2 linked regions of the Homo sapiens genome follow. The protein of the gene in region 2 interacts with the protein of the main gene of each other region in a pairwise test. Each region holds a gene or a part of one and is shown on either strand. Other genes may lie near its edges.

Evidence for each region.
Region 1: the proteins of OAS1 (region 2) and BBS4 interact in binary tests that used the Homo sapiens proteins (3 or more experiments, as listed by UniProt).

The regions. Positions count from the first base shown.
Region 1 is NC_000015.10:72,710,207-72,717,231, reverse strand, and holds part of BBS4 (BBSome complex member BBS4), read right to left. Parts: intron 4,989-7,025; coding exon 4,925-4,988; intron 1,942-4,924; coding exon 1,830-1,941; intron 455-1,829; coding exon 382-454; intron 1-381.
Region 2 is NC_000012.12:112,902,598-112,909,961, forward strand, and holds the start of OAS1 (2'-5'-oligoadenylate synthase 1), read left to right. Parts: upstream 1-4,364; 5' UTR 4,365-4,442; coding exon 4,443-4,622; intron 4,623-5,938; coding exon 5,939-6,227; intron 6,228-7,364.

The DNA.
Region 1 (7,025 bases), on a different chromosome or scaffold from region 2:
GGTCTTCAGAATGAAAGAGTCAATTGAATGTCACACAGATGGGGACGGGAAAAAGACATGAAACACAACTAGATGCCTATTGCTGATACTGTGGAATTCCAATGACGAAAAAAATACCCAAAGCTTCTAGGGGTCATCAACAAGAATCAGACTGGTAAGAGACTGCTCGTCAGCAAACTGCTAGAAAATCATGCAGCAATGCCTGCAAAGTTATGAGGAAACATGGTTTTTGATCCTATACTTATACAAATCATGAATTAAGTATGAGGTTAAAATCAAGACATTTTTGGAATGTAAGAATTCAGAAATAAGACAGCCAGATGATAAATGGAACCATTAGCAAGTTTACTAATAAGAAAGAACTGAAAGTTCTCTACTTACCCAATCTTTCTGGTTGAGTTTAGCTGCTTCATTATATACTTCAATGGCAGCTTTATGTTTTCCCAAAAGAAATCTGTAAAAGATATATTTTCCATAATTATTACCTCAAAATTCTTAGAAGACTAACCCTACTAGTCCCACATTTTAATCATATTTCATCCAGCAGAGAATTCTAGAAGCCTTTTCTCTATGAGGTGGTTGTGCTGGTTTGGTCAGTGAAGCTGCTATACACTAACAGCAGAAGCTCTCTTAGTAGGGATTGCACTGGCAGCTGTTCCAAGGCCTTGGTCTCATTCTATACCAATTTTAGTGAGAGTCTTGTGGAATTTTTCTTCTACAATGTACTATAAATGCAGACCAAAAAAGAAATAAGCCTAATGATATACCATGTTAAGCAGTAACTACCATCATTTATCATCACCCATTAGGGACACATCCTTTCCTTCCAAGACTAAGTCTCTTTCCTTGATATTGGATCCTGAGTTTAGAGAGAAACAGGGAAAACCAAGCTCTATGCAAAAACAACACAGGTATGAATGGCAATGTGGCTAAGAAAGGGGAGATAGGAACTCCATGGAACAAAGGACTGAAAAGGGAGTACCTAGTAGTTTATAAACACTTGAGATTCTTTCCATCTAGGAATCTTTAGGACATTCACTCAACAAATAGAGATGCTCCTCAACTTATGATGGGGTTACATCCCAGTAAACCCATTGTAAATTGAAAACACTGTAATTCAAAAATGCATGTAATACATCTACTCTACCAGACATCATAGATAGCCTAGCCTATCTTAAGCATGCTCAGAACACTTACTCTGTTCCATGGAGTTCCTATCTCCACTTTCTTAACTACATTTGCTGACAGTTAGGCAAAACCATCTAACACAATGCCAACTTTATAATAAAATGCTGAATATCTCATGTAATTTACTGAATACTATACTGAAAATGAAAAACGGAATGGCTGTATGGATACTTGAAGTACAGTTTCTACTGAATACATAACAATTTTACATCATTGTAAAGTTGAAAAATTATGTAAGTTGAACCATCAGAAGTCAGGAACTCTCTGTCCTTACTAAAAACTTACTGTGTGACAAATACTAAGTGTTAGAAGAGTAGATGAGAAAAATTCCAAGGATTGCCAATAAGTTTAGAAGACTTAGGGTACAAGGTGTCTCTATTTACATGATAAACAATATTGGTCCCCCATCAAACTAGAATGCACAGTGTTTAAAATGCTTAGTTCCTTAACACTAGTTATCTCATTTTCTCAAATTTCAAACTTAATCCATGCTCTTCAGAGTGAATCCCACTGTACCTATTAAACCATTCCCCCACTTGTGTATCAGGCTGATGCAGCTGCCAGCAGCAGGCTGGACCTAGGAATGCATTTTACACTGTTCTCTGTGAGTGCCCTAGGGCCTCCAGGTTGCCAATACTCACAAAGATCTGGCCACCTGCTTGAGGTTATCAGCACTCTGAGGACTAAGAACTGCACATGTCTGGAAGAGTTCTAGGGATTCTTGGATATTTCCTTCTAGGCGAAATATCAATGCTGCCAAGAAACAGAAAATACAAAAAAAAGTAAAACCATGTTCTGGGAAGAATGGAGCCTGGGGTCAGAAAAATTGGAGAAGAGAAAACTGGGAAACCACATCAAGTAAATCCTTTGGACAACTGTATCCTTAAAACAATCAGATATGGCTTTGGACAGGCTGAAACAACAACCAAAACTGCTGACAAGCTCAACTGTCTTTTAGCAAGGTAGCTCAAACCTACCTACTTCTCTCTCTACTCCCAGGATCCATCACATAGATAATCAGTTCCTTTGCAAATTATCACACAAACTCTTCACATTAACAACATTTTGGGGCTTCCCCATCAGATGCTTCATTTATCATAATTTACTTCCAACTGATAGTTTTCAGAGCGAACCCCCAAATGGGGCAAATGGAATCAATACCTCAAATTCAACATGGAGATTCTGGCAAAGGATAAAGTAACATTTAAGACTTCAGTTGTCAGTGTAACAACCAATTAGAACCAGAGGTTTTTCCTAGGCCTATGTTTCCAGAAGAATTTATCAGGCACTGAAAGTCTGATACTTGTGACACTGGGAATAAGAGCATTTTTTGCCATGATGTCCTAAATTTGTCAATATCTTAACAATTATGTCAGAAAATTATATGTTAATCTGAAGACTACAAATGCAATGAATGGTAAACAAAACCATTTATTTACACCCAAGAGTCAAAAAGAAAGTTCCTGGAAAAACTAAGAATGCTACTTATGCCACTAAAGAGGAAAATTTAAGTCAGTGGGCCAGGTGCAGTGGTTCATGCCTGTAATCCCAGCACTTTGGTAGGCCAAGGCAGGTGGATCACCTGAGGTCAGGAGTTCGAGACCAGCCTGGCCAATATGGCAAAACCTTGTCTCTACTAAAAATACAAAAACTAGCTGGACATGGTGGCATGTGCCTGTAATCCCAGCTAATAGGGGGGCTGAGGCAGGAGGATCGCTTGAACCTGGAAGGCAGAGGTTGCAGTGAGCTGGGATCGCACCACTGCACTCCAGCCTGGGCAACAGAGCAAGACTCTGTCTCAAAAAAAAAAAAAAAAAAAAAAAGTAAGTGAGTGGTCCTTATCTTTGGTTTCTAATGAGCTGAATTTATGCTCTGCTTTATCTTGTTTATTTCCAGGCTTCTTCCCCTCATCCTGATTCACCTTACAGAAATCCTCAAGCTCTTCTTCATCTCTTTTAGCTTGATTACAAGCAATCCTTCCAAAAGCATCTTTTGGCCCTGAAATCACTGCATTAGGCAGGAATCCTAAGCATCCATTCCAAAAAACACTAGCCAGAAACTAAAAAATGGGTAATCATAGCAATTTTTTAACATTACTAGTCATTTCTGAAGTCAAATCCAACACAGTAATTATATTCAGATTCCATAAAAAGATTAATACTGAATAAAACCTTTCTGGAACATTTAAACTCATGCACCTGTAATGACATTTTGGTCGACAGCTGTATAAATGATGATGATCACTTAAGATTATAATGAAGAGGAAAAATTCCTATTGCCCAGTGACGTCATAGCAATCAAAACAGTGCAATGCATTACTTACCTATCTGTAGTGATGCTGGTATAAACAAACCTACTGTGCTGCCAGTCACATAGAAGTACAGCATATACAATTACATATATATAGAACTTAATACTTGATAATAAATGACTACATTACTGGTTTATGTATTTACTACGCTATACATTTTAATCTTTATTTTAGAGTGTACTCCTTCCACTTACTAAAAAAAAGAATAACTGCCTCAGGCAGATCCTTCAGGAGGTATTCCAGAAGGTATTCCTATTGTTATAGGAGATGACAGCTCCATGTATGTTATTGCCACTGAAGACCTTCCATAAGGAGGTGGAAGACAGTGATATTTATAATCTTGACTCAGTGTAGGCCTAGACCAGTGCGTGCGTGCGTGTGCGTGTGTGTGTGTGTGTGTGTGTGTGTGTGTGTGTGTCACAAAGACCTTAGATGGGTCACAAAGCTCTGAATGCCAAAAAAGACAGCAAGGACACATTCCACATGTTAGTACCACCACTGTAGTAGTGTGTGTATCGTAGTTTTTAACAAAAAAGTTTAAAAGTAAAAAAATAAAAAGTTTTAAGAATAGCATAAAGGGCCAGGTGTCGTAGCTCATGCCTATAATCCCAGCACTTTGAGAGGCTGAGGCAGGAGAACTGCTTGAGCCCAGGAGTTCAAGACCAGCCTGGGCAACAAAGTGAGACTCTGTCTCTCTACCAAAAAAAAAAAAGAAAGAAAAAGAAAAAAGCTTATAGAATAAGGACCTAAAGAAACTATTTTTGTACAAATGTACAATGTTGTTGTGTGTTTTAAGTATTACCCCAAAAGAGCCAAAAAGTTTTAAAGTTTATAAAGTAAAAAGTTATAGTAAGCTAAAGTTAATTTATCATTGTAGAAAAAATATTTTTAAATAAATTTAGTGTAGGCTAAGTGTACAGTGTTTATAAAGTCTACATTAGTATACAACATAAAGTCTACATTAGTATACAATAATGTCCTAGACCTTCACATTCACTCACCACTAACTCACCCAGAGCAACTTCCAGTCCATCCATGGTAAGTACTCTATACAGGTATACTATTTTTTATCTTTTATACCATATTTTTACAGTACCTTTTCTATGTTTAGATACACTTACCACTGTTTTACAACTGCCTACAGTATTCGGTATAACACCTGCTCATACAGGTTTGTAGCCTGGGAGCAACAGACTATATCATGTGTATAGTACACTATATCATCCATCTATGTTTGTGTAAGTACACTCCATGTAATGTTCACACAATGACAAAATTGCCTAACAACACATTTCTTAGAACATATCTCCATTGTTAAGTGGTGCATGACTGTACTTGAACTTGTTTCTTCAATTGCCTGATCTTTTTCAAGAACCTAGGAAAAGTGTATTTCTCTAGCAAGAAGACAAGAAGTATGTGTCTTACCTTGGACATAGATAGCATATTCACACAATCCCTGAGTCTCTTGAAGCTGTTCTTTGATAACAGCCTGAAAGAGGGAGAAAAATGCTTCTGAGCAGTGGTTAAGTTTCTTCAGGTGTCTTTAAGAAAAAGTGGACATGGACAGGCCAGGTGCGGTGGCTCATGCTTGTAATCCCAAAACTTTGGGAGACCAAGGCAGGCAGATTATGAGGTCAGGAGTTCAAGATCAGCCTAACCAATATGGTGAAACCCCATCTCTACTAAAAATACAAAAATTAGCCGGGCAGTAGTGGTGCGTGTCTGTAATCCCAGCTACTCAGGAGGCTGAGGAAGGAGAATCGCTTGAACCCAGGAGGCGGAGGTTGCAGTGAGCCAAGATAGCGCCACTGCACTCCAGCCTGGGCAACAGAGTGAGACTCTGTCTGAAAAAAAAAAGAAAACAAATAGTAATGAAAAAGCAGACGTGGACAAGAATCATATGTAAAAAAACCTAGAGTATTAATAATGCCTAGTAAAGTATTAGTTCATTCAGTTTCTTAAAATTTCAACTCCCTTGTTGTGATTACTTCTTCTAGAACAGGGATTTGCAAACTACAGGGCTTACAGGCCCTGTATATTTTTGTACAGCTCTCAAGCTAACAGTGGTTTTTTTATTTCTAAAGGGTTATAAAAAATAAGATAACAAATATGATGTAGAGACTGTATGTGGCCTACAAACCCTAAAATATTGTTGGCCCATTACAGAAAAAGTTTGCCAACCCCTGTCTAAAATCTAACTAGGCAAGCTAAGAAAAGTGTGATAAGATTTCCAAGTATTATCACAGATGAAAAAGAAAGAGAACCTTTCAAGATTCATACTGGTGGCCAGGCGCGGTGGCTCACGCATGTAATCCCAGCACTTTGGGTGGCCGAAGCGGGCAGATCACCTGAGGTCGGGAGTTTGAGACCAGCCTGACCAACATGGAAAAACCCCATCTCTACTAAAAACACAAAAAATTAGCCAGGCGTGGTGGCACATGCCTGTAATCCCAGCTACTCAGGAGGCTGAGGCAGGACAATCGCTTGAACCCAGGAGGCGGAGGTTGTGGTGAGCCGAGGTCACGCCATTGCACTCCACCCTTGGCGACAAGAGCAAAACTCCATCTCAAAAAAAAAAAGATTCATACTGGTATCTGCCTTCGGATCAGCGGTGTCAAAAAAAACTGGTATGGGCCGGGTGCGGTGGCTCACGCCTGTAATCCCAGCACTTTGGGAGGCTGAGGCAGGTGGATTACGAGGTCAGCAGTTTGAGACCAGCCTGACCAACATGGTGAAACTCCACCTCTACTAGAAATACAAAAAAAAAAAAAAAAATTAGCTGGGCATGGTGGCGGGCACCTGTAATCCCAGCGACTTGGGAGGCTGAGGCAGGAGAATTGCTTGAAACTGGAAAGCGGGGGTTGCAGTGAGCCGAGATTGCGCCACTGCACTCTAGCCTGGGCAATAAGAGCAAAACTCCACTTAAAAAAAGAAAAAAAAAAACTGGTATGAATCTTTGTCATACCAGTATGAATTAGTTCTGTGCATTGCCATAGGTATAAATGCCATGGGTATAAATTAAAAACCTTAGATGGGTCACAAAGCTCTGGATACCAAAAAAGATGACACCAAGGATACATTCTGCATGTTAGTACTACCACTGTCTGCCTGCAAGTTTGTAACACATATGGTATGTCACCAAAGATACAGAGAAAGGGAAATACAAATGGTTTTTAAATATACACATGATGATCAACCTTGCAGTAAGAGAGAAATTAAAAAATAAAACTCAGGGCTGGGCACGGTGGCTCACGCCTGTAATCCCAGCACTTTGGGAGGCCAAGGCGGGCAGATCACAAGGTCAGGAGTTCGAGACCAGCCTGGCCAATATGGTGAAACCCCATCTCTACTAAAAATACAAAAAATTAGCTGGGCATGGTGACACTCATCTGTAGTCCCATCTACTGGGGAGGCTGAGGCAGAAGAATTGCTTGAACCTGGGAGACAAAGGCTGCAATGAGCCAAGATCATGCCACTGCACTCCAGCCTAGGTGACAGTGAGACTCCATCTCAAAAAAAAAAAAAA
Region 2 (7,364 bases):
CGCAAGAATGAGTGGTGTGTAATTTCCTGTTTCTGTTTCTTTAAAGGAAACAATAATTTAAAGCCACCTGCAAAGGCATGAAGGCATAATCCTGGGCAAAAGTGGATTTGTTTCAACTTATTTTCTCAATCTTCTATGGGATCATCTCACTCTTAGCTAATTCTACGCAATGCTTGCCTTTATTGCATCTTTCCAAAGAATTGGATGTTGGTTTCCTAAGGACAGCTCTCTTTTGCACTCATCTGTTTACAGATATATATATTTAATCAAAAATATTTAACAACTGCAATTGCCATGAGGACATTTGGGAGCAAACAAAATTTTATTTATTTATTTAGAGACAGGGTCTCACTATGGGAGCAAACAAAGTCTTCTTTATTTATTTAGAGACAGCATCTAGCTATGTTGTCCAGGCTGGTCTCAAACTCCGGAGCTCAAGTGAGCCTCCTGCCTCCACCTCCGAAAGTGCTGGGATTACAAGCCTGAATCACTGCTCCTGGCCAGAATCTTTTTTTTTTTTTTCAGTTAATTTAGAAAGTTTATTTTGCCAAGGTTGAGGATGCCAACCCGTGACACAGCCTCAGGAGGACCTGAGGACATGTGCCCAAGGCAGTCAGAGACAGTTTGGTTTTATACATTTTAGGGGACATGAGACATCAATCAACGTATGTAAGATGGACATTGGTTTGGTCTGGAAAGGCGGGACAACTCGAAGTGGGGAGGGGGCTTCCAAGTGGTAGGTATATAAGACACAAATGGTTGCATTATTTTGAATTTCTGATTAGCCTCTCTGAAGGGGGCAATCAGAAATGCATTTATCTCAGTGAGCAGAGGGGTGATTTTGAATAGAACGGGAGGCAGGTTTGCCCTGAGCAATTCCCCAGCTTGACTTTTCCCTTTAGCTGAGTGATTTTGGGGCCCCAAGATATTTTCCTTTCACATTTCCTCCCTTTTCTTTTTAAAAATATTTTAGACAAAGCATTTTAGAAGAAAATGAGTCTCTAGTCTCAGGTTTCATCTGATTTCTCTTGGCTAGGATGGTTTATTACTATAGGGGTAAGTCCGGAGTTATTAGGAAAGCTCATTTTTAGAAGGTTGTAAAGTCTCATGTCCTGTGAAGAGAAAATAGGGGGAGGAAGGGAGAACACAACAAACAAAAGAACAATCCTGGAAAATCAAGATACAGGCCAGAGTATTCCGAAGTTCACACATCAGCAGATAGGTATGAAAGTGGCTTACGTCTGTAAATATGTAATTATTTTTTTCTGAGGTTTAAGTTGTCTAGCTCCAGTTTGCAGGGCTTTATAAAAGCACAACTTAGTTTTCAGTGATTCCAAATTAGGGAAAATGGGGGGAAAAGAAGGAAAAAATTTAAAATATTATTTTGGAGACTTGTAGCCAAGAAAAATTAGAATTCAGTCCAAACTATAGAAAATAATAAAAATTGAAAAACATTAGGCAAGACTAGAATGCAACAACAGGTGTACTATAGTTTTTGAAGCATAATCTTTCTCCAGTTTCCCATTTTTACTAAAGATGAATCATGGTAAGGGAGGAGACCACCCCTCATATTGTCTTATGCCTAATTTCTGCCTCCAAAGAAAGAAGATGTAAAAACTAAAAGGCAGAAATGAAATCCACAAGCAGGTAGCCTGGTGCCACACCCTGGGCCTGGTAGTTAAAGATCGACTCCTGACCTAATAGGTTATTTGCATAAAAAAGGCACTGTGAAGATCCCTGTCCTATTCTGTTCTGTTCTAATTACTGGTGTATGCAACCCCCAGTCATGTACCCCCTGCTTGCTCAATCCATCACGACCCTCTCACATGGACCCCCTTAGAGTTGTGAGCCCTTAAAAGGGACAAGAATCGCTCACTCGGGGAGCTCAGCTCTTGAGACAGGGGTCTTGCCCATGCTCCCGGCCGAATAAACCCCTTCCTTCTTTAACTCGGTGTCTGAGGGGTTTTTGTCTGCAGCTCTTCCTGCTACAATGGTATGACTGGTTTGCTTTATCATACTTGGCCTAATTTTTTGCATACAGTGCAGCAAGAATCTTCAACTAGTAAATGAAGTGAGTATTGCAAAGACAGCACCCCACCCTCATGGTGACATTTAGTCTTAGGCCAAAGTCAACATCTTATACAGTAGGAGTGGAGAGTGTCAACTCATGAATAATCTGGTTAAGAGGTTAAGGGTTTGTAAGAAAGATAGTTGGCATTTACAAAATATTTCATCCAACAAAAACAGGAAACACATTCTTCTCAAACTCACACAGAACATTCACCAAGACATATTATGTTCTGGGCTAGAAAACACACTTTAACAAATTTCAACAGAGATATGTTATGCAAAGCATGCCCTTTACTACAATGGAATTAAAAAAGAAACCCACAAAAGAAAGATAGCTGGAAAATTCCAAAATATATGGAGATTAAAGAACACACCTCTAAATAACACATGGGGCAAGGAAGAAGTCTCAAGAGAAATTTTAAAATATTTTGGGCCAGGCTCAGTGGCTTACGCCTATAATCCTAGCACTTTGGGAGGCTGAGGCAGATGGATCGCTTGAGCCCAGGAGTTCGAGACCAGACTGGGCCACATGCAGAAACCCCATCTCTACAAAAAATACAAAAATTAGCCAGGCATGGTGGCATGTACCTGTAGTCCCAGCTACTTGGGAGGCTGAGGTGGGAGGATCACCTGAGCCCAGGAGGTCAAGGCTGCAGTGAGCTAAGATTGTGCCACTGCACCCCAGCCTGGGCAACAGAGTGAGACCCTGTCTCAACAAAATAAATAAATATATTTTGAATTAAATTAAAATGAAAAAACAGCCTATCAAAAAGTGTGGGATGTAGTGAAAGTAGTGTTTAGAGGGAAAGTTATAGCATTGAATGCATATATTAGGAGAAGAAAGATCTAACTCAGAGAGGGATGAACAGGTGAGGCATAGGGGATTTTAAGGTAGTGAAACTCTTGCAGGGCAGGGGAGCCCCAAAACTGGGACACCGTCCGGGAAGGCTCTTGGCTTCGTCCAGGAAGGAATTCAAGGGTGAGCTAGAGGAGGAAGAAAAAGGTTTATTGAGGCAGCAGGGTTACAGTTCTGTGACTGTCCCTGCAGAGCAGGGCCACCCCATAGGCAGTGCCTGGAGAGCAGCAGCTCAGGGCACTTCTATAGTCACATTCATACCCACTTTTAAATACGTGCAAATTAAGGGCAGGTTATTCAGAAATTTCTAGAAGAAGGGTGGTAACTGGGTCATTGCCAGGGAATGAGTAAACTGTTCATGGTGCTGGTGCTCATGCCAGCCAGTCTTCAATCTGGCCCTGAGTCAAGCCCCACCTCCTATCTCAAAACTATTCTGCATGGTGCTGTAATGGTGGATACATGACATGTTATGTTTGGCAAAATCCATAGAACTGTAGGACACAAGAGTGAACCTTAATGTAAACCTTAATGTAAATGGACTTTTGTTAATTATGATGTATTAATATCAATTCATCAATTGTAACAAATGTATCACAGTACTGTTAATAATAGAGGAACTTATTGGCAGGAGAGAGAGCTTATGGAACTCTCTGCACATTCAGCTCAATATTTCTGTAAGCCTAAAACTGCTGTGAGAAATAAAATCCAACCTGGGCAACATAGCAAGACCTTGTCTCTACAAAAAATAAAAAATGAGCTGGGTGCAGTAACGCATGCCTGTAGTCCCAGGTATTCAGGAGGCTGGGGCAGGAGGATCCCTTGAACCCAGGAAGTTGAGGTTGCACGAGTCATGATCATGCCCCTGCACTCCAGCCTGGATAACAAAGCAAGATCCTGTCTCCAAAAAATAATAAAATAAAATAAAAATCTACTAATTGAAAGGGAAAAAAGCATAGTATAATACCATTCTTAACAAAAAGAAAAGAGACCTGTGTTTGTGTGTGTGTTAACATTTGAAAAAAATCTGGAAAGCTCTATATCAAAACGTTTATAGAGGCAATTTTGTAGTGTTAGAATCATAGATGATCTTTCCACTTCCTGGTTTTTCTGACTTTTTTTCTTTTTGCAGTGGGCATGTATTGCTGGAAAATACCACAGACAACTGTGAAAGGATTTCATCAACAACAAAAAAAAGATAAAGAAGGAAACACAAAATCTGTTAAATAAGATTTATGTTGGCTGGAGGTTAAAATGCATTTCCAGAGCAGAGTTCAGAGAAAGGCTGGGCTGCTTGTTGCTGGCTAAAGGACAAAGGGTAAGTTTCAGGAAGCAGAAGAGTGAGCAGATGAAATTCAGCACTGGGATCAGGGGAGTGTCTGATTTGCAAAAGGAAAGTGCAAAGACAGCTCCTCCCTTCTGAGGAAACGAAACCAACAGCAGTCCAAGCTCAGTCAGCAGAAGAGATAAAAGCAAACAGGTCTGGGAGGCAGTTCTGTTGCCACTCTCTCTCCTGTCAATGATGGATCTCAGAAATACCCCAGCCAAATCTCTGGACAAGTTCATTGAAGACTATCTCTTGCCAGACACGTGTTTCCGCATGCAAATCAACCATGCCATTGACATCATCTGTGGGTTCCTGAAGGAAAGGTGCTTCCGAGGTAGCTCCTACCCTGTGTGTGTGTCCAAGGTGGTAAAGGTGAGTCCAGGCCTGCCTGGCCAGGGGAGGGGTGGCTGAATGTGCAAGAGTTGAGATTGAGAATGAGAGAGAGAGAGAGAGAGAAGCAAAAACCTAGAACCCAGGGTGCAAATGTGAGTACAGAGAGCTGAGATCTTCTGGGATGGTGGTTTCTTATTTATCCACACAGCATGTTAAAATAGATTCTGGGGTGAAATCCTACATCCCTATTATTAACAAGTGACCCTCCCCCCTACTTCCCGCTGAAGTTTATGAACCACTGTCCTGGGCGATGCCCATTTCAGAAATAGGGAACTGAATCCCAGCTCTGGTAAACAGTTTGCTAATTCGTGGCCAGGCTAGGGGCTCACCATTTCTGCAGTGAAGAATCATATGTTTTGAAAGCAAATAGCACCTGCTGGCTGCAAGACCTTGAGCAAGTCACTTAACTACTCTGTGTTCCAATTTCCTCAGCCATAATCCCCAATACTGTTGCAGTCTTGCCAGTGCACCTTAATGTAGCAGCTTCTCACTGAATTAGTACCCAAGGTTCTTTGTCCTGCATCCAAGAAAATTAAGGAACATGGACACAAACGTGAGCTTGGAGCAAAAGTTCAGTAAGCAAAAGAAGAAAGCTGTCTCCACTGTGGAGAGGGAAGTCTGAGTGGATTGCCAGATTGCAGCTGAATGCAAAAAACTTTTATAAGAAACCACTCTCCTCCCTGTAACTGTTTGAGAAACTTTTTATCAGTAAAGCTGTGCAACTTCCCTTACCTTATGCAGCTGTGGGTATATCTCTAGGCAAGCATAAAGCGCTGCTTCTCTTGTATGTATAACTGTGGATTTGTTTTAGGTAAGTCCCACTCCCTGCGCCAGTTTCAGGCAGGCCGCTCCTCCAGGGCCCAGCCTTGACCATTTACCTAACTGATTTTTCCTCTACTTTCCCTCAATACCTCATAGGGCCGTGTAGATTAAGTAAAATAGTAAGTGTGAACCACCCAGCATAAGCTAGTCCTGGGCATCGTAAAGGACAATGGGAAAAGAACACAGATCCTGGAAGAAGGCCCCCAGGTTTGAATTGTATTTGCCACCTACTAGCTGGGTGATGGGGCTGATATATTATCTCACTGAGCATCCATTTTCCCATCTGTAAAATGGGAACTAATGATAATGGCATCCAAATCATAGCATCATTGTGAGCATTATAGGAGTTTAAGACATGCAATGCCTTCAGAACAGTGGCTAGTGCTCCATAATGTTAGTGATTGCTCCTGTCATTTTATTTAGGGAGGTTTGCCTCACTAAGCATCAATTATTATTTTTGTCGTCTTTTTCAGGGTGGCTCCTCAGGCAAGGGCACCACCCTCAGAGGCCGATCTGACGCTGACCTGGTTGTCTTCCTCAGTCCTCTCACCACTTTTCAGGATCAGTTAAATCGCCGGGGAGAGTTCATCCAGGAAATTAGGAGACAGCTGGAAGCCTGTCAAAGAGAGAGAGCATTTTCCGTGAAGTTTGAGGTCCAGGCTCCACGCTGGGGCAACCCCCGTGCGCTCAGCTTCGTACTGAGTTCGCTCCAGCTCGGGGAGGGGGTGGAGTTCGATGTGCTGCCTGCCTTTGATGCCCTGGGTGAGAGCTCCCAGCTTCTTTTTCTCCCTCTTCCCATTTCTGAGCAGAAATCTCCCACAGTTTGAGAGCTTTTTGCCCCAACAGGGCATCTCTCTAAAGCAGGGTGGGAGGAGATCTTAGGATCTGTCCCGGGGCAAGAATGAATACGGTCATGATCTATCACAGGAGAGACATTAAACAGCAAATTGGCATAATGTGGGGACAAAGACATTTCTTACAGAACATCTGCAAGGCTTACTGGTTCTGTTTAAGGCAAAATGTGTGAATTTTATCTTTCTAAAATCAGGCAGCAAAGATGTGGCTTAAAGTTCATGTTACTCTCATCTTTGTCCCAACATGAGATCTCATCAAACGTATGCAGCACGTTGGGAGATAGATATTTATAATTTGCAGGAACATTTGGACAGGAAGTGTAACCTCTCAGAGGCTCCCTTGCCACATCAGGAGAATTGGTAAAACCACACTACCTGTATCATATCATTATTTTAAGTGATAAATGATCATCTACATTCAGCTCTGATGAGTAATAGGTGTTCAAAAATAGGAACTTCCAGCCAAGTGTGGTGGCTCATGCTTGTAATTCCAACACTTTTGGAGGCTGAGGCAGGAGGGTCGCTTGAGCCCAGGAGTTCAAGACCAGCCTGGGCAGCAAAGTGAAACCTCATCTCTACTAAAAATTTTAAAACATTAGCCAAGTGTGGTGGTACATGCCTGTGGTCGCAGTTATTCAGGACGCTGAGACTGAACGATCACATGAGGCCAGCCAAGGATTCGAGGTGTCAGTGAGCCACGAATGTACCACTGCACTCCATCCTAGGCACAGAGCAAGAGCAAGACCCTGTCTCAATCAATCAGTCAATCAGTCAAAACTATGAATTTCCCAGCTGTATATGAAGGCACCTCAAAACACCACAGTGAACTCACAGAGGGACACGGAATAGTTTAGATTTTAATTTTTTGAGGGAAATGCGATGACATCTGTCACACACCGCACAAACGGCTACTATTAAACTGAACTTACTGATTAGTGGCTACTAATTAATAGTTGGTCATTAAGCAGTAATTAGTGATTAATTATCAAGTAATTAGGACTTAATTAAAGGAACTGTCACAGTTTCCTTTAGTCCTAGGGCAGCC